Linked DNA regions of Homo sapiens: region 2 is linked to region 1. The links come from fine-mapping of genetic effects on gene expression. Tissue or cell type: testis. Region 1 holds a variant in brackets; the other region holds the start of a gene. All regions are shown on one strand. Distances are from middle to middle.

Evidence for each region. PIP is the estimated chance that this variant, and not a neighbour inherited with it, causes the effect. A credible set is the group of variants that fine-mapping cannot tell apart.
Region 2: LINC02898 starts here. The variant in region 1 is the best candidate, but not a certain one, in a credible set for the expression of LINC02898 in testis (GTEx, PIP 0.78).

Annotation. Positions count from the first base shown.
Region 1 is chr2:41,990,111-41,992,793 of GRCh38, reverse strand. No RefSeq gene overlaps it. Among named protein-coding and RNA genes, the nearest start is that of LINC02898, 38 kb to the right of the region's middle. RefSeq lists a silencer at 2,091-2,385. The variant G/A (reference allele first, on the strand shown) is at 1,389.
Region 2 is chr2:41,952,101-41,954,783 of GRCh38, reverse strand. It overlaps LINC02898 (long intergenic non-protein coding RNA 2898), which reads left to right and starts at 978. Exons shown (of 4, transcript NR_161189.1): 1 at 978-1,057; 2 at 1,476-1,796. LOC124905996 (a long non-coding RNA gene) reads right to left here. Exons shown (of 3, transcript XR_007086296.1): 3 at 1,735-2,173. RefSeq lists an enhancer at 1,103-1,242.

The sequences.
Region 1 (2,683 bases):
AATGCGTCCCAAGGTGGAGCACAGCTCTCAGCCTGGTGGTGGGGAAACAGCCCCAAAGAGTAGAAGGTCTTGCTTGCTGCTGCCTTCTTGCAGAAAGAGAAGGGAGGACTCAGTATTGGTGTATTATGGTGGGGGAGGGGGACGTGGGCAAGTCCTGGTCTCTGGAAGCTTAGCCTGGGGACAGAGTCAAGTTCCTAAGCATGATATTGGAATGGGAGCTGCCCCCAGGGCTGTGCTTGTGTGTGAAGGTGCCTGGGAGGGGTGGGAGTTTGTGTGTGGGGGTGTCACACAACCTCAGCAGAGCATCAGGGATGACTAACGATGGCCAAACCCAACAGGTATTGTGACAGGGAAGGGGTGGGTGGCTCTGAAGTTATGCTGGTATTCCATTTGGCCTGGGCATGGCCTGGAGCTGACCTGACACTAGAAGGTTGTGGGAATAGTGGGGCTTTAGCAGCCCCAAGGATTGGGCTGCTGCTTCAGAGTGCACCTTACAGATGTTGGAGTGAGTGCTCTAGGGTGCATCTGGGGCCATCCCTTCCCCTCCCTTCCCCTCTCTTTCCCTCCCTTTCCCTCCCTTCCCCTCCTCTCCCCTACCCTCTCCTCCCCTGCCCTCCCCTTCTCCCTTATTCCTTTCTCCTGCCCTCCCCTTCCCTTCTTGCCCCTTCCTCTCTCCTCTCCTCCACTCCCCTTCTCCCCCACTTTCCCTCCCCTGCCCAACTCCTCCCCTCTCCTCCCCTCCCCTGCCAACCTCCTCCCTTCCCCTCCCCTCCCCTCTCCCCTCCCCTCTCCTGCCTTCCTCTTCCCCTCCCCTACCCTGCCCTCCCCCTCCTCTTCTCCCTCCCCTCCCTCCCTTCCCCTCCTCCTCTCCCCTCCCCTTCCCCTTCTCCCTCCTTTCCCCCTTGCTCCTCCCCTCTGCTTATCTGCCCTCCTCCTCCCTCCTTCCCCTCCTCACCCCCTTCCCCCTCCTCGGCCCCTCCCCTCCCCTTCCCTCTCTTCCCCTCCCCTCCCCTCCCCTCCCTCTCCTGAGATTTATCAGCTGCTCAGTCTACCTACCATTCTGCATGGAACTGGTGAGCACATCTCAGTCTCCTGACACCTGCTCAACCTTCAGAGGGCTGAGAAATCAGATTTCTGGCTCCTTGAAGCCAAAGGTCAGACCTAGGCTTGTGGCTCTCACTAATGGGTGCATGCCGTGGAGATGCAGCTAGTCTTTCATGCTCCTCTTCCTCCTTTCCCTCCCACTCCTCCTTTTGGAGTTGTGTGCAAAAGGTTTACTGGGGAGTAATATTGTGAAAAGAAAAAGGGAGAAATGGGAGAATCGGGCAGGGACCTTGAGACCACCATGCAGATCTGACAAAGTCTCTCCTGCCTCTTCTCACAAGGTC[G/A]TTGGCTTCCCTCCAACAAGTGGGACAAGCAGAAAGGATCACTGGGTGCTGTAGAGCTGAGCTGGGAGAGCCTTGTATTAGAACATTTGCTGAGGGGCTCCCTTAGATGTTTTTCCCCCTTAACTCCAACTCTAGCCAGTGGAGGAGAGGGTGAGACTTGCTCCTTGGACCGAAGTCCATAGTGGAGGCATTCAAAGTTCATGCAGTGAACATTACTGAGCACCTGCTATGTGCCAGGCACTGAGCAGGAAGATGGGCTTACAGAAATGAACTTAGGAAGTTTCCAGGTTGAGGCAGAGGTGGAGGAGAGGCATGATGTAATTAATCACATTACAGTATGGTAAATGCCACAGCTAACTTTACACAGGAGCTAAGGGAGTACAAAGGAAGGAGGAGATAACTGCTTCGTGTGTGTTTAGCAGTTACTGCATGTGTGACAGCGTGTTGTAGGAATGTGTGTGTGTGTGGTGAGTGCATTGCATGTGAGTGTGTAGTCTGTGTAAGTATATGTCAGTGTGATGTGATGTGGATATATGGGTGTGTGAGTGGGAGTATCTGTGGATGATTGTGTATTCCAGTTTGCAAGTTGTGCGTGATGCTGTGGTGTGTGGGGGTGTGTGAGAGTGCGTGTGGGGGTGTGTGAGAGTGCATGTGGGTATGTTTCAGGGATGTGTTGTAGGAATGACCTCAGGGACCACAGCAGCCTTTGCAGAAGGTGTAAGTGCCCCAAGGGAAGGGATGGCATCTGCTGTGCTGGAACCCAGGGCCTAACACAGTGCCAGACATAGGAGATGATCAATAACCCTTTTCTGAATGAACAGCTGCCTCCCCTTTTCTGGAGTGCAGGAAACAGAATCTGTTCTGTTACCATCAGCTGTGGCCTTGACTTCCTTTCAGGAGGCTTTGTCCTCTTGGACAAAGTAAGAGAGCCGTATTTTTTTTTTCTTTCAGATGTTAGTAGCTGAAACTTGAGGGTAAAGGGATAAATTCTTGAAACAATTTAAGTCCTAGTAATGTCCTGCCTCTTTAAATGAGCGTCACTCAAGTCAAGGGTTGTAGTTCGTTTTACTTGGCGTCTATACACTTTTTGTACTTTCTAAATCTTCTAAATTTTTTGAGTCTGAGAAAGGAGTTATTAAAAAAGGAATCTGACTTTTCCATGTGCACTTGTGCTGTAATTGTGTAAAAGCTCTTGAGGTGCTGCCTTGGACCCTTGGGTTGAATTCAGACTGCTTGCCTTCCCCCACCCCCACCCCATTTTCCTGTCCCAACCCGCTGTTTCTCCTTCTGGCCCT
Region 2 (2,683 bases), 38 kb after region 1:
TCCCAAATTTAATTTCCTATTCCTTAATTTAATTCTGCATTTTAGTTTTGTTTTTATTATTTACATGGGTTCCCTTTAATGATTCCAAATTGCTGCTGCCCTCTAGCAGAATTTTGTCTTATGTTAACTTCTTGAAAACTGATCAGCATTGGAGTTTATTCCACGCTGGGTTTAGTTATTTTCTGAAACGAAGCACAATTAAATTAGAATAATGAACATGCTCTTTAGAGGATTAATTCATAATTAGCAGGCCATGTGCTACAGCTCACAGAAGAAAGGGCACAAGGATCGAAAGCTGTTTTTTTCTGCCTAAATATGAAAAGTACATTCTGCAGAGCAGAACAAATCAGCTAATGACATCCAGAGCGCTGGCCAGCCCCAGAGCAGCATGGAGCTGGCACCTTGAGTTAGCGCAATCCCCACCGATGCTGCTGCCTACCTTTCCTCCCCGAGAAGGCTGGCAGCGGGCAATTTGCCTGGCTCTTCTCTCCTCAGCACAGCTGATAGAAGCCACTGTGGACCTCCTAAATTCTACCCCCAGGAAGCCCCAAACTCCACAGCCTGTGGCTTCACAAGCTTCATCCTCAGAGCTTCCTACAGCCCATTCACTCATTCATTCTTTCATCCAAGGAATGTTTTACTAGCTCCTGCTATACACCAGGCATCCATGGGATGGCCCACCCTCGGGATACATCAGGGAAGAAAACATACAAAGACCCCTACCCTTTTGGAAGTTATACTTGAGCAGGCAGAGACAGACAATAAATGGTAAAAATAATAAGTAAATTATGTATTATGTTAGAAGGTGATGAGTGCTAAAGAGGAAGGGGGGTTGAGAGTGGTGTGTGTGTGTGTGTGTGTGTGTGTGTGTGCGCGCGTGCCTGTGTGCTTTGCAGTTTTAAATAGGATGGGTCATGGTAGGCTTATGGGGAAGGTTTCAATTGAGCGAAGACTTGAAGGAAGTGAGAAAGTGAGTCACTTTCAAGCAAGTCACCCAGGTCAAGCCTGTTCTAGAAGAAACAACTATAGCAAAAGCCCTAAGGTTGGAGTGTGGCTGGTGAGTTCGGGAAGGATGGGGCCAGTGGGGGCTGAATGGAGGGAGTGAGTGGGAGATGAGGGGGACCCCATCAAGTGGGGCCTTGGGTTTTTCTCCGAGAGAACTGAAAGTCAGGGCAGGGTTCTGAGCACAGGCAGGACGTGGTCTTTTACTAAAGGATCTCTGGCTGCTGGCTGAGAACAGACTTTACAGGGTCAGGTAGATGGAAGGATGGAAGGTGGGAGACCTGTCAGAAGGCTCACAGCTTAGGCCTCTGAAACTCCAGCCCCAGGTTTTCCCATACCATGTTCTCTGGGCCTGCCAAAGTGCTGAGCTCAGGCCTCAGAACCAGGCACAGAGGCTTAGAGTCTCCTGCAGTCCCCTTTCTCCCAGAAGGACCAGTATATTTATTTTTTTATTTTTTTTATTTTTTAAACAGCCAGAGCTCACACATGGTGAGGATGTCCAGACCATTATTCCTCGATTGGGCCTGGAGACCCCTCTGCAGCCCCTCCCAATCTCTCCCACTGACCTACGGACCAGAAGGCTGGATTTTGCAATGGAAGGGAACTTGCAGGCAGCAGACAGCTCTGCACTGTCCCTTTGATTTTCCTCAGGCACCTCTGAGAGGGAGACACACTCTCAGCCAAGTACCCAACAAGGGACATGAGAAGGCTTCTGCTGTGCAGCTGCCAGAGAAACAGGGGACAGATCAAAGCAGGAGAGGACCAACATCTGCGGTAACCAAAGCAAGGACAAGGTACAAACACATTGAATGAATAAATAAGCAGATGAATGACTGATGGGTGGGGGGAATGAATGATTAATGCATAAATGAATGATTGATGAATAAACAAATGTATAGCCTGGAGCTGGCTCCTGCTCCCTGCTCTTTGGGTATCTTCTCTACTGGGAACCGAAGATTAAAGATGCTCCCGTGACCTTCACCTCTGGAATTCCCTGCTGGAGTTGGGATTACACCTGCTTCTGAGCCCAGAGGTTGGGGAGGCTTTGGCTTAGGATCGGTGGCCCAAGGCTGCAGAGATGTGCTGGCGGAAGGAGGCTGGAAGCAACTGGGGCTGGTCTGGAAGACCCCTGGGCAGCTTGTAGGTTCTGAGTGCGGAGAACTCCAAGGATCTGAGAGGAGAGAAGGGTGTGTTGGGAAGAGGGGAAAAGGAGTGGTTTAGTTTTTCCTTCCTGGTTCTACACGGGACATTCTGCAGATGCTGGGCCTTGGGTTGGTCTCATTCTAGGGCCTGTAAAGATACAGAAGTCTGTCTCAATGGAGCATTTGACTGTATTATCCCAAAAGGCAGGAAGATTTCGGTAATCGAAATTGTCAGAAGCTTCCCCAAAAGGGGCAGGCTGGTGAAGACTTTAGCTCAGGCCCAGGCACTGGCACCACCCAGACGCTTGATGTGCCCCCACTTCCAGAAGTTTGTCTTATAGTGTGGCCAGATCCCCATGCCTCTGGGGGAGAAGTACCCTACTGGGGGAGGGTTTGAGGAAGCAATGTTTAAAGACCCTGGGTCACATGGCTTCACTTCATTTTGGAGAAGCATCTTACCTGGGAATTCCCATAGAATCTAGTTTGGGGCCAAAAGACTGCTCCTAAAGAGTGCATGTACACAGTCCACTTTATGTTCT